Linked DNA regions of Homo sapiens. The protein of the gene in region 5 purifies or fractionates together with the protein of the main gene of each other region. This does not show direct contact. Each region holds a gene or a part of one and is shown on either strand. Other genes may lie near its edges. The genes, in order: PTPN14, CRYBG1, XIRP1, KIAA0232, SOCS7, CEP164 and KBTBD8.

Region 1 (2,202 bases), on a different chromosome or scaffold from region 5:
GCATCTACCCACATATGAGGGGTTCACCGTGAATGTGCTATGGTGGTTACTGGCTGAAAGTCTGGGACAGGACAGCCACCTTTAAACCTGGACACAAGTTGAGCTGTTATAAAGCTGAAAGGCAAAAGCAAGAATTTAAATTTTCTACAGCAGCCTGGTTGGTGCCTGCCTTTTCCACATCAACAGTTTGGTACCTGAGTAAATGACAGTGAAGGAGGAGTGAGTAGGGGCTTGGAGCTTAACGAGGCTTATTGCTGCATTTGTGAGAAAGACCCATTTCTATGTATTCTTCACTCCACTTGCCTAGTGATCACCCCTTTCAGGTTTCTTCTAACAGTGACAACCTTGGGAATTTCAAACTAAATCTTCAGTATGATAAGGTTATGCAGGACTAAAAACTGGGTAGCAATAAATGGGCTTTAGAAAACAAAGCATGCAGGTTTTCCCAGGCACTTTCAACTAATGCAAACATATACAGTACAGAAAAGAGAAGATGTAACTTTTCTCTGAAAAAAAGGTTTATTGCATATGGAAATCAATAGATATCTTTTACAAAAAAAGGTTAGAATAAAGATCTCACATTTGTAAAGGCACATATGAAACATTTTATAGCAAGCACAAGGGCAGTGAGAACATCAACAAGGTCCAATATCTAAATAAGACTTTATAAAAACAGATAGGAAACAGTGCAAAAAATACTGTCAAAGTCAGTTCTATACACCTCATAACTGTGTATACAACTGGCAAGCATAAGCTTATTTACTGATATAAAATAGCACATAGAATAGCATGCATAGTTTTATTTTAGGCTTTTCATATTATTAAATTGATAGGGAGTCTATACCAAAGTACAGTTGACATGAATAGTGATAAAAATCACTCCCCAGCTTAGGGAATGTCCTATAAACATCTCACCCCTCCCTCTGCTTACAACTACAGTTTGGTAGTAAGGAGACTGGGCTTCCATCTTGCAAGGTGGCAAGCGGCCACCACAGGGGGCGAATGTGCTCTCAGGATCCCAAGTCCCAACCTGGAATGCATTTCTTACGGCAACAACATAAGAGATGGTGATTAAATGTCTGGGTCAGCCCACAAAAGCCAACCAGATCTGGCTATCACAGCCCTCCATTTGGGCTGTGGTGGAGGTCAGTGGGCTTCTATGGGCTGACGCAAGAACCTTAAGAACAAACCGGTTTCTAAGTTGGGGACTTGTCTGTACATCGTTTCAAAATGAAACCTAATAAATGTCATTTGTTTTGAATGATACCAAAATTCACAACATTTTGTGAAACAAAGATCAAGGAAAGCATCAAAATACTGAAGTAGGGAGCACAAGCCTAGTCCAGTGAAACAAACTAGATTAGCTTGTTACTTGATGTAACACAAGTTACATAAGGTTACACATTTATTAGTAATTTGCATATTTAAACCTTTTTTTCCACTGAAGTATCCTCAAGCACATTAATTAGCTATTGAAGGAACAAAGGACATACATAGGAACTCATCTCTGATGAAGAGTAGCTTTATGTCAGAAAGGAGAAGGCTAATGAATTTTTAAGATTCCAAACAGTGGCAAGAAAGTTCAAAGGAAATTGCAGTAAAATTGTACAATGTTCAAGTTGAAAAAAAAAATGGCTCTGAATTACAGCATTCAGTTCTATGCTCAAGGTATGTATTAGCTAACACTGCAGTTGTCAGAGGTGGGAGGCCCCTGAGAAATGCTGAGAATGCCAGGCACCCCAGTTCTGAGAGCCACCCTAGCTAAACTCAAAGCAGCATTCTTGAGATTTTAGCAAAAGGCTCCGCCCCAAGCCACAAAAAGATCCCAATCCAATCTTTTCAGCTTTATCCTCTAAAACCTTTTGTCAGATGAGATAGCATTTGTGTTTCCCAGGAGGAGAAGGTTGGGGAAGAAAATGAAGATAGCTTACATACAGATTTTGGATGACCCGCTAATCTTTCCCCTTCCTAGGTAAGTGAAAACAGATAAAATGTTTCTGGGCAGCCCAAAGGTTTACCACCTGTTTCACTAGAATGGCCAGTCTGTGTAAAGAGGCTATAATGACGAAAGCATTTTCCCTGCAGGGAGAAGCTAGAAACAAATGGGTCTTCCTATACATCAGTCTGCCAAATGCAGCCTCTCTCAATCTATATAAGTTCACCTCGAAATACATATTAAGTACTGCTGTCATCATTGTTTTA
Region 2 (3,500 bases), on a different chromosome or scaffold from region 5:
CAGAGTTGTTTTTATTTCCCCCAACTTATGGTTGAAGGAATCCCTGGGGTTCTCTTCAAGGGCTGCAGTTGGGGAAAGTAGGGATGAGGATGGGGCTGTCCACTCTCCTTTCAAGCAGAATCACTCCTAGTATCTGTTTTATTTATTGCTCCTATTTAAACTTTCTTAGAAGAAAGGATTCCAAAGCTTATATATATGTGTGTGTGTATATATATATATGTGTGTGTGTGTGTATATATATATGTGTGTGTGTATATATATATGTGTGTATATATATGTGTGTGTGTATATATATGTGTATATATGTGTGTGTGTATATATATATATGTGTGTATATGTGTGTGTGTATATATGTGTATATATATATGTGTGTGTATATATATATGTGTATATATATATGTGTGTGTGTGTGTATATATATATGTATATATATATTCCAGTACTTTGGGAGGTCAAGGAGGGAGGATTGCTTGAGCCAAGGGGTTCAAGACCAGCCTGGGCAACATACTGAGACCCAGTCTCTACAAAACAAACAAAAAAATTAGCCAGGTGAAGTGGTGCGTGCCTGTAGTCCCAGCTATTCCAAAGGCAGAGGTGGGAGATCACTTGAGTCCAGAAGATCAAGGCTGCAGTGAGCTATGGTCATGCCACTGCACTCCAGCTTGGGTGACAAAGTGAGACTCTGTCTCAAAAAAAAAAAAAAAAAAAAAGTCTAAACCATTAGTCCAGTGGTTTATAAAACGGGAGAGATAAAGCATAACCACTAACAATCAGTGATTGTCAAGCCCTTGACAAATGCTTCATCGGGCTTACTTAATTAATATACGACTTTATACATTCTATTTTTGGCTGAGGAAGTTGAAGTGTTGAGAAGTAACTCCCTGAGGTTATGCAGCTGATAAGTGACAGGGCCACAGTTTGAAGTGAGGTGCTCTGGCTTCAGATGCCATGCTCCCAACCACTATACTATTCTGGTTCCCCAGATAGGCTTGGACTATACCCGCCTGAATGAGCTCCTCTGGTTCTTTCCATCTTTATCATTTAAAGTCAGTGAATTATCATGAGATCCATAACATAACATAGACTTTAGAGGCCACTTTGATAATGAGAACACACAAGTGGAGACACTGAAATCCCATACTGCCTCTCCTTCATGGACTTGGCCTTCATGAAGCTTGAGCCTGGCTGGGTGTGGTGGCTCATGCTTGTAATCCCTACACTTTGGGAGGCCAAAGCGGGTGGATCACTTCAGGTCAGGAGTTCCAGACCAGCCTGGCCAACATGGTGAAACCCTGTCTCTACTAAAAATACAAAAATTAGCCAGGTGTGGTGGCACAGGCCTATAATCCCAGCTACTTGGGAGGCTGAGGCAGGAGAATTGCTTAAACCTGGGAGGTGGAGGTTGCAGTGAGCCAAGATTGTGCCACTACACTCCAGCCTGGGCGACAGAGTGAGACTCTGTCTAAAAAAAAAAAAAGAAGCTTGGGCCTAAGGAGCTTCTAGAAGGGACAGGCAGTATGACTGCTGGTGAGTCAACTTATCCTTCTGGATAAAATATTCTCTCCAAAAGCAGCACTGAGAATTCAGATTTTAATTTTTACAAATTTTACTTGATACTAAATTTGAGGCTGGGATCAGTGGCTGATGCCTGTAATCCTAGCACTTTGGGAGGCCGAGGCAGGTGGATCACTTGAACCCAGGAGTTTGAGACCAGCCCGGGGAACATGGCAAAATCCTGTCTCTAAAAAAATACAAAAATTAGCCAGACATGGTGGTGCGCCTGTAGTCCCTGCTACTAGGGAGGCTGAGGTGGGAGGATCACCTGAGCCGGGGGAGGTCGAGACTGCAGTGAGCCATGATCATGCCACTGCACTCCAGCCTGGGTAACAGAGTGAGATCCTGTCTCAAAAATAAATAAATAAATAAATAAATAAATAAATAAATAAATAAATAAATAAATTTGATCTCTGCTCATAAATTTCTCCCAGGCATTGCTTTCCCCAATATCTCCATAAGATACTTAGGCTCCCTTATTGCAGGCCCATACCTTAAATTTAAAAGGAAAATTAATTTATAAGCATTTCCTCAAAGATCAAATTATGAAACTAGTGAGATGATTAGAAATAGAGAGCTTCAATTTGCTATCAGTTAATGAGGGATGGTCACATACCAGAGAATATACTTTTTAAAAATTCTCACTAATCATTTCAAGGAAGGGTACTCAATTCAAACATCGAAGTATATCTTATGATGTAAATAGAAAACACTACAGGTTAGCCAACAGGCTACCTTAAGGACAGGAAACACGTATCTGCACATTAAAGATTTACACGAAGATCAGAATAAATTTTACAACCAAACTTTCTGTGCTATTAAGTTGTGCTACCAAGAGTTACTACAATTAACCTACTTCAGACTGATTAAAAGGAAGGCTCCTATAATTCATGTTGTAATGCCTTCATTATGAGACAGGGGAAAATAATTTGGAGTCCAAAAAGCCATAGTTATATTATAAGAGGAAAATTCTCCTTATTCTACATATACCATTTTAAGAATTTCAACATTCAGCACTTGGTAGAGAACTTGAAGTAATAATTTTTCTAACAGCATAAAGGAACATGCTACTTCAGTGTCATTTTTCAGGAAATACGAAATAGTTTTTCTTACTCTTCAGTCTCAAATTGTTTTAAAGAATAATCTGATTAACATCTTGCGATACGGTCATAGGAAGAATTAAAGGGTCTGAAAAAACCATCAGTCACAAAGAAATGGGTCAAAGGACTAGAAATACTTATTAATTTTTAAGTCAATAATTTGCCAAATGACCATGTGCAAGGCACTGCGCAAAACAAATACATTGAATGTCTGGTAAAGAAAATTTTTAGGTATAAATTAATCAGAACTGGGAAAGACATATTTGGTTTAGTTCTATTACAGAGAACAGCAAACGAAGAATTTCATTATAAGATCATCTTTCCTGTTTGTTTAGCCTACTATTTCACAGTGTAACATTTCTGGTTTTTCTACTGGTGTCTTCTAATTGGAAGACAGGTGAACCATCCTTCATAAGGTACACAGCAATGTTTCTCTAAGGCTCACATTTAGGAGGCTTTAGCATTCAATCACACTGGTCTTCTATAAATAATAGGCATCATTCACCCAGCTCATTTCTCTGATGCTACCTACCATCACAGAATAAATCACTGACTATATCAAAGGTCTCCAGGTTGGCAGTTGGTGAGGTAGTCAAGTTATTCATTACGCATACTTCCCTCTCAGAGTTCTCAGAGTTCTCCCAATCAGAACTCTCCTCCTCTTAAGCTTACTTATCCAAGAAATCAAATAGAATGAAAGAAACCATTAGGTTCAAGAATTATAATGATAATGTTGTTAAAATACCCACTCCTTGAACAAATATGTGAATGGAGGAAAAACTTAAGCACTTAATCATTATTCACCTGTGCTAAGTGGGAGTGGTGAGGGAGCAGAAGTGTGAGAAG
Region 3 (3,440 bases), on a different chromosome or scaffold from region 5:
AGGAGTCTCTAAGCGTAAGTCACCCAGAGCTACTCTGACTCTGAGCCCTGTTTACTACCATTTCTCCCAGCATCCAGCCTCTACCCTGCTGAACATCTAGATCTAAGGCTCCCAATCCCATCCTCATCTCTGCCCCTTCTTCTCAGAAGGATGGCCGACACCCAGACACAGGTGGCCCCCACACCAACCATGAGGATGGCAACTGCAGAGGACCTGCCCCTCCCTCCACCCCCAGCCCTGGAGGACCTGCCACTGCCGCCACCCAAGGAATCCTTCTCCAAGTTCCATCAGCAGCGGCAAGCTAGTGAGCTCCGCCGCCTCTACAGGCACATCCACCCTGAGCTCCGCAAGAATCTGGCTGAGGCTGTGGCCGAGGATCTGGCTGAGGTCCTGGGCTCTGAGGAACCCACCGAGGGTGACGTTCAGTGCATGCGCTGGATCTTTGAGAACTGGAGACTGGATGCCATTGGAGAACACGAGAGGCCAGCTGCCAAGGAGCCCGTGCTGTGTGGTGACGTCCAGGCCACCTCCCGCAAGTTTGAGGAAGGCTCCTTTGCCAACAGCACAGACCAGGAGCCAACCAGGCCCCAGCCAGGTGGAGGAGACGTTCGTGCAGCCCGCTGGCTATTTGAGACAAAGCCACTGGACGAGCTGACAGGGCAAGCCAAGGAACTGGAGGCCACTGTGAGGGAGCCTGCAGCCAGCGGAGATGTGCAGGGTACCAGGATGCTCTTTGAGACGCGGCCGCTGGACCGCCTGGGCTCCCGCCCCTCCCTGCAGGAGCAGAGCCCCTTGGAACTGCGCTCAGAGATCCAGGAGCTGAAGGGTGATGTGAAAAAGACAGTGAAGCTCTTCCAAACGGAGCCCCTGTGTGCCATCCAGGATGCAGAGGGCGCCATCCATGAGGTCAAGGCCGCATGCCGGGAGGAGATCCAAAGCAACGCGGTGAGGTCTGCCCGCTGGCTCTTTGAGACCCGGCCTCTGGACGCCATCAACCAGGACCCCAGCCAGGTGCGGGTGATCCGGGGGATTTCCCTGGAGGAGGGGGCCCGGCCCGACGTCAGTGCAACTCGCTGGATCTTTGAGACACAGCCCCTGGATGCCATCCGGGAGATCTTGGTAGATGAGAAGGACTTCCAGCCATCCCCAGACCTTATCCCACCTGGTCCAGATGTTCAGCAGCAGCAGCATCTGTTTGAGACCCGAGCGCTGGACACTCTGAAGGGGGACGAAGAGGCTGGAGCAGAGGCCCCACCCAAGGAGGAAGTGGTCCCTGGTGATGTCCGCTCCACCCTGTGGCTATTTGAAACAAAGCCCCTGGATGCTTTCAGAGACAAGGTCCAAGTGGGTCACCTACAGCGAGTGGATCCCCAGGACGGTGAGGGGCATCTATCCAGTGACAGCTCCTCAGCACTGCCCTTCTCTCAGAGTGCCCCCCAGAGGGATGAGCTAAAGGGGGATGTGAAGACTTTTAAGAACCTTTTTGAGACCCTTCCCTTGGACAGCATTGGACAGGGTGAGGTTCTGGCCCATGGGAGTCCAAGCAGAGAAGAAGGAACTGATTCTGCTGGGCAGGCCCAGGGCATAGGGTCCCCAGTGTATGCCATGCAGGACAGCAAGGGCCGCCTCCATGCCCTGACCTCTGTTAGCAGAGAGCAGATAGTCGGAGGTGATGTGCAGGGCTACAGGTGGATGTTTGAGACACAGCCCCTAGACCAGCTCGGCCGAAGCCCCAGTACCATCGACGTGGTGCGGGGCATCACCCGGCAGGAAGTGGTGGCTGGGGACGTTGGCACAGCTCGGTGGCTTTTTGAGACCCAGCCCCTGGAGATGATCCACCAACGGGAGCAGCAGGAACGACAGAAAGAAGAAGGGAAGAGTCAGGGAGACCCCCAGCCTGAGGCACCCCCAAAGGGCGATGTGCAGACCATCCGGTGGTTGTTCGAGACTTGCCCAATGAGTGAGTTGGCCGAAAAGCAGGGGTCAGAGGTCACAGATCCCACAGCCAAGGCTGAGGCACAGTCCTGCACCTGGATGTTCAAGCCCCAACCTGTGGACAGGCCAGTGGGCTCCAGGGAGCAGCACCTGCAGGTTAGCCAGGTCCCGGCTGGGGAAAGACAGACAGACAGACACGTCTTTGAGACCGAGCCTCTTCAGGCCTCAGGCCGTCCCTGTGGAAGACGGCCTGTGAGATACTGCAGCCGCGTGGAGATCCCTTCAGGGCAGGTGTCTCGTCAGAAAGAGGTTTTTCAGGCCCTGGAGGCAGGCAAGAAGGAAGAACAGGAGCCCCGGGTAATCGCTGGGTCCATCCCCGCGGGTTCTGTCCACAAGTTCACTTGGCTTTTTGAGAATTGTCCCATGGGCTCCCTGGCAGCTGAGAGCATCCAAGGGGGCAACCTCCTGGAAGAGCAGCCCATGAGCCCCTCAGGCAACAGGATGCAAGAGAGCCAGGAGACTGCAGCTGAGGGGACCCTGCGGACTCTGCATGCCACACCTGGCATCCTGCACCATGGAGGCATCCTCATGGAGGCCCGAGGGCCAGGGGAGCTCTGTCTTGCCAAGTATGTGCTCTCGGGCACAGGGCAGGGGCACCCTTATATACGAAAGGAGGAGCTGGTGTCAGGTGAACTTCCCAGGATCATCTGCCAAGTCCTGCGCCGGCCAGATGTGGACCAGCAGGGGCTGCTGGTGCAGGAAGACCCAACTGGCCAGCTCCAACTCAAGCCGCTGAGGCTGCCAACTCCAGGCAGCAGTGGGAATATTGAAGACATGGACCCTGAGCTCCAGCAGCTGCTGGCTTGCGGTCTTGGGACCTCCGTGGCAAGGACTGGGCTGGTGATGCAGGAGACAGAGCAGGGCCTGGTCGCACTGACTGCCTACTCTCTGCAGCCCCGGCTAACTAGCAAGGCCTCTGAGAGGAGCAGCGTGCAGCTGTTGGCCAGCTGCATAGATAAAGGAGACCTGAGTGGCCTGCACAGTCTGCGGTGGGAGCCCCCGGCTGACCCGAGTCCAGTGCCAGCCAGCGAGGGGGCCCAGAGCCTGCACCCAACTGAGAGCATCATCCATGTTCCCCCACTGGACCCCAGCATGGGGATGGGGCATCTGAGAGCCTCAGGGGCCACCCCTTGCCCTCCTCAGGCCATTGGAAAGGCAGTCCCTCTGGCTGGGGAAGCTGCAGCACCAGCCCAATTGCAAAACACAGAAAAGCAGGAAGACAGTCACTCTGGACAGAAAGGGATGGCAGTCTTGGGAAAGTCAGAAGGAGCCACGACTACCCCTCCGGGGCCTGGGGCCCCAGACCTCCTGGCCGCCATGCAGAGTCTGCGGATGGCAACAGCTGAAGCCCAGAGCCTGCACCAGCAAGTTCTGAACAAGCACAAGCAGGGCCCCACCCCAACAGCCACTTCCAACCCCATCCAGGACGGTCTTCGGAAAGCTGG
Region 4 (3,500 bases), on a different chromosome or scaffold from region 5:
GGCCAAAGCGGGCAGACCACGAGGTCAGGAGATAAAAACCATCCTGGCTAACACGGTGAAACCCAGTCTCTACTAAAAATACAAAAAATTAGCCGGGCGTTGTGGTCGGGCGCCTGTAGTCCCAGCTACTCGGGAAGCTGAGGCAGGAGAATGGCGTGAACCCAGGAGGTGGAGTTGGCAGTGAGCCGAGATCGCGCCACTGCACTCGAGCCTGGGCGACAGAGCGAGATTCTGTCTCAAAATAAAAATAAAAAAAAAAGAAAGAAAATGAGATTTTTTTCTTTACACACACACCAGAAATAAATATGTGAACACTGTCATAATAAACTAGCATATACAATTAACCAGTGTATCCAACCACTAGTGTCGTCTCCACCTATTCAAATTAATAGCTAAAAGCTGCCACTTACTGAGCACTTACTATATGCTGGGCCCTGTTCTGAGTGTGTCACGTGGATTCACTAAGTTCTCATACAAAGTTATTCCAACTCTATCCTCCTCCTCCTGAAATCAGAGACTGTAAATTTTGAGTTAATTCAGTCAAACATTTAACAAATGAGTACTATGTAAAAGACTATATTGCACACTAGAGGAAATCAGAAATGATTAAGATTTTCCTCTACATCTCTCAAGGAGTTTATAATCCAGGAAAGACCTTCATGTATATAAACTAAAAAGTCATAAGGAAAAAATAGATAAGTAGAGGTATCAGGCTAGCACTGTGTGGGAGAAAAATAATGAGTTAATTCTGAAAATCAGGTTACAGAAATAGAAGTAGCAGCATTTAAGCCAAGACTCCAAGACTCAGAAAGAGAGAGAAAGGTGGAAAGGATATTTCAGAGTAGTCTGCCAATAACGGAAGTGGCCAGAGGTCTTGTGTTGAAATATAAGGTGACAAGAAGAGATGCAGGCTGGGCGTGGTGGCTCGTGCTTATAATCTCGGCACTTTCGGAGGCCAAGGCGGGCAGATTACTTGAGCCCAGGAGTTTGAAGCCAGTCTAGGCAACAGAGCAAAACCCCATCTCTACAAAAAATTAGCCAGGCGTTATGTGCCTGTAGTCCCAGCTACTCAGGAGGCCAAGGCAGCAGGAGGAAGGGAGGTGGAAGTTGCAGTGAGCCAAGATGGCACCGCTGCACTCCAGCATGAGTGACAGAGTAAGACCCTGTCTCAAAAACACAAAAACGAAAAAGAAGAGATCCAATAAAAGATTAAGCTAAAAGTAAGAATGAGGCTAGATAGCAAAGATCTTACAGTGATTTCCTAACTCTTTAACATTAATTCTCAACCAGGGGAGGAGTGTGGTAGCACTTCCAAGGTAAAAATCTTGGGAGGAGAAAGCCCATAACCTTACCAACAAAACTGTCGTATCCCTCAGGTGTGATGGAATAGAGGGAAATGTTGAGAACCTCTGGTGTATACTTGGGAAATGGGTCATGATATGATTTGATTTGCCTATTAAATAATTCTGGCAACAGAACAGAGGAGGAGAGACCAGAAAAAAGAGAGGCCAGTTGGAGGACTACAGTAACTATCTTCATAAGGAGTAAGAGCTTCAGGGAGGGTAGGGGCAGAGGAAACATGAAAGAGTAAAGAAAAAGACTGATGGAAAAGACTCATGGAGGCAAACCTGGTAAAAATCTGGTCAAGAAAGGAAGTCTCTAAAGGTTTCCAGGCTGGGTAACAAGTAGGACAAAAATGCTATAAAGCAAAACATCTGATTACCTTGTATCTGTGTAAGGATGTGCAGTACACAAAGCATAGCCTCTTTAAATGTACTACAAAGCAACAGGAATAACCGTTCTCAGTTCCCAAATAAAGACTGACTGACTTCCAAAGGGATTTAACAAACTTGTTCACGGCCAAGAAGCAAACCTGAGTCTTTCAAATCCAGTTCTAATATTCTTTTAAGAAGCCCCCTCAAACGCAATTGCTTTTGATGCATATAATAAATTTCTAAAAAAGAAAACTTTTAAAGAAAAAGCATGTAATCTCTTGGGAATTAAATTATACTTCAAATATAAGGATTTTTTTTTTTTTTTTTTTTTTTTGAGAGAGCCTTGCTCTGTCGCCAGGCTGGAGTCCAGTGGTGTGATCTTGGTTCACTGCAACCTCCACCTCCCGGGTTCAAGAGATTCTACTGCCTCAGCCTCCCAAGTAGCTGGGACTATAGGCGTGCTCCACCATGCCCGGATAATTTTTGTATTTTTAGTAGAGATGGGGTTTCACCATGTTGGCCAGGATGGTCTCACTCTCTTGACCTCATGATCCGCCCGCCTCGGCCTCCCAAGGTGCTGGAATTACAGGCGTGAGCCACCGCGCCCGGCCAATACAAGGAATATTTTTAACCTTGTGCTCTGGTTCCCTCTGCCCAAAAAATGGGTCGGTGATTCACAGTCAGCAATGCAGGCACTTCATCTATTTCATTAGACCCTACAAGTTTAGATACAAATGGGAAAGATGACAGTTTTTACTTTGTATAAAATACCACTTATGTGATTATGTGAAAGACCAAAAATAACTGTAAAGAAATATTCTAAATAGTAACTATATTCAACATAGTAAAACTACATTTCTAATGTTGTTGTGGGCACCGATGTTTATTAAAAATACTTCATCTGGGTCTTGTGCGGTGGCTCATGCTTGTAATCCCAGCACTTTGGGAGGTTGAGGTGGGAGGATTGCTTGAGCCCAGGAGTTCGAGATCAGCCTGGGCAACACAGGGAGACCCGTTTCTACAAAAAAACAAATTGTTTTAATTAGCTGAGCATGGTGGTGCATGCCCGTGGTCCCAGCTACTCAGGAGGCTGAGGTGGGAGGATCACTTGAGCCTGGGAGGTTGAGGCTACAGTGAGCCACGATCACACCACCGCACTCCAAGCCTGGGTGACAAAGCAAGATGCTGTCTCAAAAACAAACAAACTTTATTTGCAGACTTAAGCCAGGGTCAGAAAAAATAAAAATAAATATACTTTATAATATTAACATACTCTTTAAGGTTGATTACAGACTTTGACTTTATTTAGCAAACATTTAAACACTTACATTTAACATTAAGCACTTATGTTTAAACGCCTGAGCAAGGTGTTGGGGGCAAAATGATAGGATAGACACCACAGCCAGAGTTTACTATGACCAATTTATAATACAACATGATATAGACAATAATGAAGGAAAAATAGAGAACTATGATTGAGGAAAGGAATAATTCATTGTAATAGGACTTCCAAAGGACTCCAGAGAGAACAGAATATTTGATATGAACTTTTAAGAACTGGAGGGAGTGGGAGTGAGACAGGACATTCCAATAAGAGAAAAGAATATAAGCAAAGAAGGTCTGAAATAGCTTGGCATGTTCAGAGAACCAAGAGCAGTCTTGTTTAGCTGGACAGTGTGGAAAGGGGACAAAGAGGACAAGATAAAGTACAGAGATGACTGGGGGCCAGACTGCAAGGGGCCTGCATTGTGATGCTGGTATCTCTGAATTCTAAGCTCCAAACCA
Region 5 (3,500 bases):
AGAGGAAATTATCACCATGCTGCCTGGGAGAAAGTGACTATCAGACAAAGAAATTCAGACACACCTGTAATCCAAGCCCTTTGGGAGGCCGAGGCGGGTGGATCACCTGAGGTCAGGAGTTTGAGACCAGCCTGGCCAACAGAATAAAACACTGTTTCTACTAAAAATACAAAAATTAGCCAGGCCTGGTGGCACATGCCTGTAATCCCAGCTACATAGGAGGCTGAGGCAGAAGAATCACTTGAACCCAGGAGGCGGAGGTTGCAGTGAGCTGAGATCGCACCACTGCACTCCAGCCTAGGCAACAGAGCGAGACTCTGTCTCAAAAAAAAAAAAAGAAAGAAATTCAGAACAGAACAGTTACAGGATCAACACTAAATTCACCCTCTTTGTATACGTGATTTAACAAAATATCTCTAGATGATAAGTTTAACTACAAACAAAGCTTGTGAGAATTTGCCTAATGGTCCTAGGTTCTTTCTTCCTTTTACCTAAAGAGTTTTACCGGCTCATTTCTCGGGAGCCTCTCCAACAGTTTTGTTCAGGCCCTCCTATTTAGGAAACAAGATGCTGCTGACAAGACTTTTAAATGGAACCCTTACTCTCCCTTCCCTACCCCCTCCATTTCTTCTAGTGACGGAAATCAGCGCTCATATCAATATTCAACTGAGTCTAAGATAATTTTTCCCCTATTTGTAGTTCCATTCCTATGAATCTCTTCCACAAAAAAGTCAGACAGCAAAGGTAGAGCAAATCAAGGGGGGAAGAAGCCTCTCTTACCAGTATCTCTTACCTCTGTAGTGCTCCATTCTAGTGTGGTGGGTGATACCCTGTGATCGGAAACTGAGGCTCAGGATGTAACGAGGATCAGAACTGTCTCGTACCAGGAAAGAACCATCTGGTTTCCCTTTCAGCTTCATCTCTGCATCTTCCCAATTCATTGGCCCCCAATACCAACCACACTATCAAAGACAAGAAGCAGTCCACTAGTTATCAGGACAGAGAAATGTCAAAGTTTTCAGTGCAATCTATCTTAACATGGGAGAACCCTCTGCATTCTCTCCAAAATATTTCAATAGGTAAAAGCCACTTACAAGTGTCTCAACCATTAGCAATGAACATCAGGCTCACTATACTTTTAGCCCTCCAAAGTAACAGAATAATAATTCTGGCCGTGAGCTGTGGCTCATGCCTGTAATCCCAACACTTTGGGAGGCTGAGGCGGGTGGATCACTTGAGGTCAGGAGTTCGAGACCAGCCTGGCCAACATGGTGAAAACCCATCTCTACTAAAAATACAAAAATTAGCTGGGTTTGGTGGCACATGCCTGTAATCCCAGCTATTCAGGAGGCTGAGGCAGAAGAATCGCTTGAACCCAGGAGGTGGAGGTTGCAGTGAGCTGGTATTGCGCCACTGTACTCCAGCCTGGGTTACACAGTGAGACTCTGTGTCAAAAAAACAAAAAACAAAAAACAAAATGGCTGGGCGCAGTGGTTCACACCTGTAATCCCAGCACTTTGGGAGGCCAAGGCAGGTGGCTCACCTGAGGTCAGGAGTTCAAGACCAGCCTGGCCAACATGGTGAAACCCCATTTCTACTAAAAATACAGTAATTAGCTGGGCATGGTGGTGGGCGCCTGTAATACCAGCTACTCAGGAGACTGAGGCAGGAGAATTGCTTGAACCCAGGAGGCGGAGTTTTCAGTAAGCCGAGATTGCGCCACTGCACTCCAGCCTGGGCAACAAGAGCGAAACTCAGTCTCAAAAACAAAACAAGACAACAACAACAACAAAAAACAAAGAATAATAATTCTACAATTTTGTTACCAAAGACCCTACCAAGAAAAGAAGAGGGAACTGGGTCAGTTAATCTATCAAAATCAGCTTAGACTATGTAAAACATTTCTCCAACAACCTTTATCATGTCCAAATTTTTTCCCCAAATTCAATTTTATTACATCTCATGGAACTAATAGCAGGAGCACACTGTTTTGTCACTGTAAATATGGAAGCAAGTAAACTATTCTTCCTCTGAAAACAATAAACAGGGGCTGGGTGTGGTGGCTTACGCCTATAATCCTAGAGCTTTGGGAGGCAGAGGCAAGAGGATCACGTTGAGCCCAGGAGTTCAAGACCAGCCTGGGAAACTGCAAGACCAGTCTCTACAAAAAATATAAATAAATTTTAGCTGGGCTTGGTCGTGCATGCCTGCAGTCCTAGCTACTCAGGAGGCTGAGGCAGAAGGATCCTTTGGCCCAGGAGTTTGAGCCTACAGTGAGCTATGATTATGCCACCACACCCTAGCCTGGGCAACAGAGCCAGACCCTGTCTCTAAAAATAAATAAACACATAAATAAAGGTGTGTCCGAATACAGAATTTAGCTAATGGGAGGAGAAGTGACCTGCCAGTCCTTAGGTACCACCTACCTTCTCCAACTCTCGAAGGCTGGCTGCAAAGCTGCTCGAGTCAGGCCGGTAGAGGGGACACTGGAGGTGCTGTGGGGGTTGGCTGTGCAGGGATTCAGCTGCTCGGATGGGAGCAATCCGGGGAAATGCATCTGCAGGGCAAGACAGTGGTGGTCACTTGTTTACCCTCACTGCTCCCAACCACAAATAGACCCTCCCCCAAAAACAGAGGATGCTAACTGAAGAGGGCAAGGCATTAGAAGCTAAGCTGGAAAGGGTAGAAGCCAAAGCAGTGGCAAAGAGCTGGATGGGCTGGAACAAAAAGCTGTGTGGGCTTGTGTAAGCTGTGAAGGATGGGTGGGGGCACTTGACCCCAAGAAAGGGGGAGGGGAGCTGCTCACTAACCTTACTAAGGTGACTACTTCAGGGGCTTCACCAGCCTAGAGCGATTCCAACTTCTCCCACCTCGAAGTGAAGTGCCGATAAGGCAGCCTTGGAAATAGTGACTCGCTTACTTGCCCAGGAAGAGTAATGATTTTGCCAGGCAAGTAGAAAAGAATGCTGATTTCATTCATTTTATTCCTTGGGTACTGTAAGCTGGCAAAGCAGGTATGGGCTGCTAAATGCTTGGTACTTATTTACAAGGCTGCAGTAAATACTAAAAGCTTAGAAAAACCATAGAATGCTGAAAACCACCAACATATTAAACCTCACTATCCTGAAATTAAGGCAGTTTCTTAAGTGATATCTACTCAAGGATTGCAAAACAGTCTCAGCAGCAAAGACTGATGAAAAATTCAGTAGTCTTTCATCCCTAACAAAAATCAGATTGACCTCCATAAAGAAAACGGGTTAGGAAAACCAGTTCTCCGCCTCATTTCTAAGGAGTCTGGTCCAGCCAAGGGGAAAAGATTTAAACTTTCTACTAAGCTGTTATTTCCATAAATAGATTTCTCCCATCCTTCTATGGTAGAAAGTATCACTTTGTACTCCCAACTCTTACAAGTCTTGCCTCTAAACTAAGCTAACCTGGGGCATGGGGTGGAGGAGGCGGAGGTAGGGGGAAAGACTGCAAGGAAGACCCCATCGGAGCCA
Region 6 (4,244 bases), on a different chromosome or scaffold from region 5:
TTTTGAGACAGAGTATCATTCTTGTCACCCAGGCTGGGGTGCAATGGCACGATCTCTGCTCACTGCAGCCTCTGCCTCCCAGGTTCAAATGATGCTCCTGCCTCAGCCTCACGAGTAGCTAGGATTACAGGCGCCTGCCACCACGCCCGGCTAATTTTTGTATTTTTAGTAGAGATGGGGTTTCACCATGTTGGCCAAGTCTCGAACTCCTGACCTCAGGTGATCCGCCCGCCTTGGCCTCCCAAAGTGCTGAGATTACAGGCGTGAGTCACCGCGCCAAGTAATCACTTACTGAACACCCACCATGGGCCAGACATTGTGCGACGTGTTAGGGCTACAAACCTGATTACACATGGCCCTGAACTTGAGCTCAGCCTACCTGGAAAGCCAAACACGTAAACACATGACTACAAAATGTGTTACATGAATTAAAGGAAGTAACATAATATATAACAGAACACAAAGGTAAGGGCAAATAATCTTAGGAAGATCAGGGAAAGCCTCACAGAGGACAATTGAGATAGTTCTTGAAGGATAAGCAGGTGATCCCCAGGATAAGCGGAGTAAGGGAATTCACGGCAGAGGAACAACATGCACAAAGGCAAAAAAGAAGAAAATCATAAGGTGGGTGCAAAGAATTAATTATGACAACAAAAGCTTATAGCCACTGAACACTTCCTATGTTACAGGAACTGTACTGAGTGCTCTATATACATCATCTCACTTCATCCACTCAGCAAAATAGAATTATCTTCACTTTTCAAATAAGGAAACTGAGGCTTAGCAAAGTTAAAAAAAAAAAAAAAAAAAAAAAGGCCAGGCGCAGTGGCTCACGCCTGTAATCCCAGCACTTTGGGAGGCGGAGGTGGGCGGATAATGAGGTCAGGAGATCCTGACCAGCCTGGCCAACATGGTGAAACCCCGTCTCTACCAAAATACAAAAAATTAGCCAGGAGTTGTGGTGCCCACCTGTAGTCCCAGCTACTCGGGAAGCTGAGGCAGGAGAATCGCTTGAACCCAGGAGACTGAGACTGCAGTGAGCCAAGATCGCACCACTGCACTCCAGCCTGGGCGACAGAGCAAGACTCTATTTCAAAACAAACAAACAAACAAACAAACTTGCCCAAGGTGTCACAGCTAATAAACGGTAGAGCAGAATATGTAAGTATCCATGTCTGACTCCAAAGCCCAAACTCTTAACCATTCTGACATGACCAGAGTGCAAGGGACAGTGGGAGGAGTGGCAAGACAGAGCTCTAGAATGAAAGGCAAGAGCATATTATAAAGGGCCTGGAAGAACAGAGGCTCTATCCTGTAAATGATGAGGGGCCATCACAGGATTTCACAAAGGAGACTGGCATGACCAGATCTGTAGGTCAGATAGACGATTCTAGCCAAGAATAGTGGTGCATGCCTGTAGTCCCGTCTACTAAGGAGACTGAGGTGGGAGGATGGCTTGAGGGCAAGAGTTCGAGGCTGCAGTGTACTAGGGTCACACCGGTGAATACCAACTGCACTCCAGCCTGGGCAACATACCAAGACCCTGTCTCTAAAATAAATAAATGATTCTGACAGCTGCATAAGAACTAATTACAGGAGGACAAGAACTGAGGCAGAGAGACCACTTAGGAAGTTATCCTGAAAGCACAAGCAAGAAATTATGAACTAAGTCAGTGTCTGTGAGGATGGAAAGGAAGCGCCAGATTCTAGGGGAATTAAGAGGCAGAATACAGGACTTGAACTTCGGGAGAGAGGAGGGAAATCAGAGCACTAAAGCCAGAACACTGTGACTATCATTTCTAGATGTGTTCATTTCTATGCCTCGTCCAATAGGCAGCCCCACCTACTACACTGCCTAGAAGACAGGGCATGTCCGACAAATGTTTGCTGTATTTATTAGATGAATAAATTAAAGGGACAGACTTGGCTGAGTGAATGGTGAAGCCCTTCATTGAGATAAAAAAATACAAGAGGAGAAACAGATCGGAGGGACCGGGGAAGGCTGACGATGACAGTAAGCAGGTCTGAGCTCAGGAAAGAGGTCTGGCTGGAGTAGTTTGGCGAGTCAACGCTGAAAAGCTGATAACGCAAGAGATGGAGTGCGCCGAGTAGAAGGGAGCTTTCTACTGCCAAGGACTGAGTTAGGAGAACGGACAGGGAGTCGCTGAAGCCAAGTGAGGAGAGCGGTGCCAGAGGTAGAGGGACATTTTTAAATCCAATGCAAGAAAAGGAAAAAACAAAAAAGCTTTCCAACTTTCCCAGCTGGCCAAAGATGGCATAAGATTGGGCTAGCCCCGGATTTGGACCCGGGGGGAAGCCTGCCACAGAAGTATCCCAGCAAGCTTCGGAAGGCCTGGCCTCACTCGCCAACGATGAACAGAGCAAGCAAACCAGGGCCCCGTGCCCAGTGCCCCTCTCCCGCGTCCCGACCCGCTGCTCACTCACCCGCCAGACCCCCAGCCCGGGCCCGGTGGCCCGCTCAGGAGCCGGCGAGATTTCAAACGGAGGAACTGTCGCCTGGCAGTCCGATTTTCACTTCTTCCCTCAGTCCCCGCCCACACTCGAGCGCATCACGCTCGTTGGCTCGAGAGCGTGCCTCGGGTCCCCCGCCACGCTCGCTCCCTTCCCCGCCGCCCAACCCCTCCCTCGATGAGGTCCTCAACTATCCCCCACCCCGGAAGGCTCCGGGCGAGGCTCCGGGCGAGGCTCTGGGCGAGGCGCAGCTCCCCCAACGCCACCCAACACCCACCCGCTCCCCCAGCTTCCAGGGACGCCGGGGTGTTGCCCTGCAGCGCGCAACAAACACTTCCGGAAAAGGTACCGCCTAGCAACCGGGAGTCCCGCCTCCAGCAGGAGCCAATAGGTCGCCGGCTGAGAGCTGTGACAATGGATTGGCTCGAAGTCCCTTCGGTGCACGCAGGAGCTCTGTCCGTTTTCCGTTGCACGATGGGAGTGTAGTTTAAGATAGATAATGGGAATCCGCAAGAGGTTGAAAGAGTGTAGTTTAAGATAGATAATGGGAATCCGCAAGAGGTTGAAAGAGAACCTCATCGGCTGGGCGCGGTGGCTCACGCCTGTAATTCCAGCAATTTGGGAGGCCGAGGCGGGTGGGTCACCTGAGGTCAGGAGTTCGAGACCAGCCTGACCAACATGGTGAAACCCCTTCTCTACTAAAAAAAAAAAAAAAAAAAAAAGAGGACCCCGAGTTTAGACGTGAGGATTTCTGCCAGGACAGAGAAGGACTATTTAGAGTATTTATACTAATGTGAATTATCTAATTATCTAATTGATCATTTGTTAGGAGTATGATTAACATCAGGTGAATAATACAGTGGTCATCAATAATCAACCCATTGTTACTTTAATCAACAAAACAAATGTGAATGTAAGGTAATGGAGACGCGTCCACTCCCCATCTCTCCCCGCAAAAAAACTGGCTCTCCTGTGCTCCTATTAAACCAGTGAGCACCTGACCAGGAGTTAAACCTATTTTCTACTATCCATCTTTTCACCAAAGCCCAGGGTTCAGTTTGTATGTCTGCAAGATGGGGATAGTAATGTCTGTCATAACTATTTCAAAGAGTCTATTGAAGAAGAAAAAAAGTGACACAATGTGTAGCTCCTCCACACACCCTGTCGGGCAGAAAGGTTGCTACTAATATAATTCCGAAGAGTTTTAGTTTTGCTTGCACGGAGGGCAAATCTTCCTTTCTCTCATATGTCTCCAACCTCCTAGAGAAGTTAAGAGGGGCAAAGAAAGTTCTGGCCATTACATCAATAGGAAAACTGAGAAACAGACAAATACAGATGCTGCTAGTTGAGGAGGAAAATGATGAGGCCAAGCTCATAGAGCCGCTCCTGATAGGTTCTAGAGATGTAGCTGACTCAGGATAGTCCCAGTGCCACTCAGAGGCTGATTCCAGGATGAGAAACTCAGATTGTTGGAATATACAGAGCATATTCCTTGTGAAAATTATCAAAATCAAAATAGAGTCATTTGTTTTAAAACCCTGACAAATGGAGCCAGGGAAGACCATGAAGAGAGGGTTCTCACGCATGAATACCTGATAACAAAAACTATCGACCGGGCCTGGTGGCTCATATCTGTAATCCTAGCACTTTGCCAGGCACAGTGGCTCACACCTGTAATCCCAGCACTTTGGGAGGCCAAGGCGGGTGGATCACCTAAGGTCAGGAGTTCGAGACCAGCCTGGCCAATATGATGAAACCCCGTCTCTACTAAA
Region 7 (3,500 bases), on a different chromosome or scaffold from region 5:
TCTGGGGTCTCATACACTTTCATCCACTGGTCAGCAATGTCATCATATTGGTAAAGGGAATTTTTTCTGCTGGTTCTGAAGACGTGTTCTTCAACAGTCACTTGAGTAGCTCGAACAAATAAATGGAGTTTGTTCTGGAAAAGTACCAGTTTAAGGTATGGATTTATGGACTGATCACATGGAAAGTCTTTCTTACGAGTCCATTTATTTAGCTCAATATCATAGGCTTCTACAGTAAACATACGTTGATGATTTCCACAGGTTCCAGCTATGTAGTAGATAGAGTCCTTGTATACAGCTGCTAAGCCCTGGATTCTAGGCACAGTCATGGGGGTTAAGAAACCCCAGTAGTCTTTTTGAGGCTCATAGAAGAGAAAAAATTCTCCTAAAAAAAAAAAAAAGAAAACAAGAATATGTAAATTTTTATGTTTGGTTTTTGGTTATATGTTGTAACTACAACCTCTAAAGATTAAAGGGCATAATTTGCTATATATTTCACTTTCTAAAACATTTCTTTTATAATCTCCAGAGATACATTCATATGGGTTACAAAATACCTTAAAACTTTGTCATTCCATGACACAATATAACAGATAATATTATAATCAACCTGAATTGGGAGGTTTGTATTGGGAAGGTACAAGGAGTTACTTGGGCTTGATGGCAGAATTGTTAAGAGCTTGATTCTGGCCAGGCACAGTGGCTCACGCCTGTAATCCCAGCACTTTGGGAGGCTGAGACGGGTGGATTACTTGAGGTCAGGAGTTTGAGACCAGCCTGGCCAACATGGTGAAACCCCATCTCCATTAAAAATACAAAAATTAGCCAGGTGTGGTGGCAGGCACCTGTAATTCCAGCTACTCAGGAGGCTAAGGCAGGAGAATCACTTGAACCCAGGAGGTGAAGGATGCAGTGAGCCAAGATCACGCCACTGCACTCCAGCCTGGGTAACAATGTGAGACTCCATCTCAAAAAAAAAAAAAAAAACACAAACTTGATTCTATTTGCTCTATCCAATTTGTGTGTTTATAGAAAATTCATTTTACTCTAGCTCTAAAAAAGCATTATTAGTAACGTTCAGCCAGTAAGACCAAAATGCATACATGTAACATCATCATAAATATGCCATGATAAATGTGTATGCTATTTAATTAGAAGACAGCAGATGGAATTGTGCAGATTTATGCTTATGGGTCACTGATGTGCTTACCTGAATGTTGCTATAATGCAAAGAGAAATATTCAGCAGGAGAAAACATGACTTTAATAAGATAGAAAACACATACATGGTTTGTGATGTTGACTTTGAGTCAGTTTCTATTTTGATTTGATAATAAAAAGGTATGCTGAGTCAGACTGCCAATATGAAAATGTCTGAAAGAATTAAAGTAGTGAAGATTTACAATAGTTTTGCTAATTATAGCATTTGTTTAAAATCTTTGTAATAAAAATCTGAACACTTTATGAACAGATTAAATGATACTTCAATAGCCACAGATAGTACAACATAAGCTTCTGACTATGCATGTCAGGTTTATTTATGTAAAGAGGCTTTGTTTAGATTAGAAATACCAGATTCTAAATTGAGCTTCCCCTTGAAAACTGTTTTGAACTAGGGTTACTCTTATCTACAAATTCAACTACGTACTTCGTAACAGTGATGCTTTGCCTTCAACTAACTTAAAATAGCTTGTAAAGCTCCCAGATTTGCTCGCACATCATCTGCCCTTATTGCCTAACTTGTAACAGGATTCTCGATAAATAAGGTAGGAAATTTAAACTTTGTAATGTGTGCTACTTCTCTATAAATTTCTTATAGATAAGAAAGTAAAGACGACACACCAAAGAAGTTGAATGTTAAAATCTAAAGTACTCTTTAATAAAAGTTAAAGCTAATAATATGCAATTAAGAAACCCTTAGGGCTTCAGAGTCCTCTTATATAAAATATAACCTCAAATTAAATGATGTTAATAATTCCAGCCCTGAAATTCTATTAATTCATTGCTAGTTTGCTTTAGTATTTGCATTAATATACAAACTTCACATTCCAAATAGGAATCTAATTCTACCTCTACCAACTAACAGTTAGGCAGTAAGACCAAAATACACACATACACAGACAGCTTCATCATACTGGATGACATAACCTATCCAAGTATACTGGACGGATCATACATCCATTCTTATATTCCATTTTTCCACAAGACAGCAAACCCAAATCATGGCCTGTGCTTCTATTTAACTAAAATAAGGAACCAGAGAGTACAACTCCTTCTGAGGAATTAACTTGACACTGAACTTAAACAAATGAGCTCAGATATTACTAGGAAATTTTTAGTTAAATAAAGGATTAGAGCAAGGAACACAATTTTTAAAAGAAAACAATGGTGGGAGGCCAAGGTGGGTGGATCACTGCAGGTCAGGAGTTCAAGACCAGCCTGGTCAACATAGTGAAACGCCGACTCTACCAAAAATAAAAAAATTAGCCAGGCATGGTGGCAGATGCCTGAGACTGAGGTGGAAGAATCATGTGAACCCAGGAGGCGGAGGTTGAAGTCAGCCAAGATCATGCCACTGCACTCCAGCCTGGGTGACAGAGTGAGACCCTGCCTCAAAAAAAAAAAGAGAAAGAAAGAAATGAAAGAAAAGAAGGGAAGGGGAAGGGGGAGGGGAAAGAAGAAAGAAAGAAAACAATGGGATAAGGGCAGTCATGCATCAATTAATGACAGGGACATATTCTGAGAAATGCATCATTAAGTGATAGTTGTCCTTGTGGGAAGAACATCATAGAGCATACTTACACAAACCTAGATGGGAGCTTACTACACACCTAGGCTACAAAACTGTACAGCATGTGACTGTACTGAGTACTCTAGGCAACTGTAACACAATGGGAAGCATTTTTGTATCTAAACATATCTAAACATGGAACAAGTACAGTAAAAATATGCTATCATAATCTTATAGGACCACCATTGTGTATGTGATCCATCATTGACCAAAACATTACATGGCACATGACTGTATATCTTCATAGAAGCTGCTCCTTTTCCTTAAGTAGTAGTGTGAGAAAAACATCAATTAAGAGACACATACGAGGAATAAGGATGTTGCTATTATCTACACTGCATTAAACATTCAAGCAACTAAAATGTGTAAGAAACCAAATAAAAGGAAAATAGTTATCACAAATCAGAGCCTTGAATCAAATGTCTTATTTACTCTGACTCAGTCACTCTACCTCTACTGTATTTTTGCCAAAGTAGTAGTCCTTAACAGTTAAAAAAACAAACAGAAAACAAAACAAAACAAACACTACATATATCAGATAGTCCCACTTAAAATGGCAAACCAAAAAAAAGGGACATCTCAAAGTTTTCCGGTGAAAAAAATTGAAAATGTATTATGAAAGGCAACATAAACAGCAGTGAAGGTGAAACTTGAAGACCATACTTCCAAACTCTTTGTAATTAAATTTCATAATTTTTGCAATAATAAGG

Evidence for each region.
Region 1: the proteins of SOCS7 (region 5) and PTPN14 purify together in Homo sapiens (affinity purification with western blotting, with the first as the bait; one study listed by BioGRID). This does not show direct contact.
Region 2: the proteins of SOCS7 (region 5) and CRYBG1 purify together in Homo sapiens (affinity purification with mass spectrometry; one large-scale study listed by BioGRID and IntAct). This does not show direct contact.
Region 3: the proteins of SOCS7 (region 5) and XIRP1 purify together in Homo sapiens (affinity purification with mass spectrometry; one large-scale study listed by BioGRID and IntAct). This does not show direct contact.
Region 4: the proteins of SOCS7 (region 5) and KIAA0232 purify together in Homo sapiens (affinity purification with mass spectrometry; one large-scale study listed by BioGRID and IntAct). This does not show direct contact.
Region 6: the proteins of SOCS7 (region 5) and CEP164 purify together in Homo sapiens (affinity purification with mass spectrometry; one large-scale study listed by BioGRID and IntAct). This does not show direct contact.
Region 7: the proteins of SOCS7 (region 5) and KBTBD8 purify together in Homo sapiens (affinity purification with mass spectrometry; one large-scale study listed by BioGRID and IntAct). This does not show direct contact.

Annotation. Positions count from the first base shown.
Region 1 is NC_000001.11:214,348,200-214,350,401, forward strand, and holds the end of PTPN14 (tyrosine-protein phosphatase non-receptor type 14), read right to left. Parts: 3' UTR 501-2,202; downstream 1-500. UniProt on the Homo sapiens protein: Protein tyrosine phosphatase which may play a role in the regulation of lymphangiogenesis, cell-cell adhesion, cell-matrix adhesion, cell migration, cell growth and also regulates TGF-beta gene expression, thereby modulating epithelial-mesenchymal transition.
Region 2 is NC_000006.12:106,514,217-106,517,716, reverse strand, and holds part of CRYBG1 (beta/gamma crystallin domain-containing protein 1), read right to left. Parts: intron 1-3,500. UniProt on the Homo sapiens protein: May function as suppressor of malignant melanoma. It may exert its effects through interactions with the cytoskeleton.
Region 3 is NC_000003.12:39,186,156-39,189,595, reverse strand, and holds part of XIRP1 (xin actin-binding repeat-containing protein 1), read left to right. Parts: intron 1-70; 5' UTR 71-150; coding exon 151-3,440. UniProt on the Homo sapiens protein: Protects actin filaments from depolymerization. Required for correct cardiac intercalated disk ultrastructure via maintenance of cell-cell adhesion stability, and as a result maintains cardiac organ morphology, conductance and heart beat rhythm.
Region 4 is NC_000004.12:6,785,727-6,789,226, reverse strand, and holds part of KIAA0232 (uncharacterized protein KIAA0232), read right to left. Parts: intron 1-3,500.
Region 5 is NC_000017.11:38,365,344-38,368,843, reverse strand, and holds part of SOCS7 (suppressor of cytokine signaling 7), read right to left. Parts: coding exon 3,435-3,500; intron 3,003-3,434; exon of another isoform or gene 2,811-3,002; intron 2,558-2,810; coding exon 2,427-2,557; intron 963-2,426; coding exon 794-962; intron 1-793. UniProt on the Homo sapiens protein: Substrate-recognition component of a cullin-5-RING E3 ubiquitin-protein ligase complex (ECS complex, also named CRL5 complex), which mediates the ubiquitination and subsequent proteasomal degradation of target proteins, such as DAB1 and IRS1.
Region 6 is NC_000011.10:117,326,410-117,330,653, reverse strand, and holds the start of CEP164 (centrosomal protein of 164 kDa), read right to left. Parts: upstream 2,801-4,244; 5' UTR 2,750-2,800; exon of another isoform or gene 2,446-2,749; intron 1-2,445. UniProt on the Homo sapiens protein: Plays a role in microtubule organization and/or maintenance for the formation of primary cilia (PC), a microtubule-based structure that protrudes from the surface of epithelial cells. Plays a critical role in G2/M checkpoint and nuclear divisions.
Region 7 is NC_000003.12:67,004,807-67,008,306, reverse strand, and holds part of KBTBD8 (kelch repeat and BTB domain-containing protein 8), read right to left. Parts: intron 386-3,500; coding exon 1-385. UniProt on the Homo sapiens protein: Substrate-specific adapter of a BCR (BTB-CUL3-RBX1) E3 ubiquitin ligase complex that acts as a regulator of neural crest specification.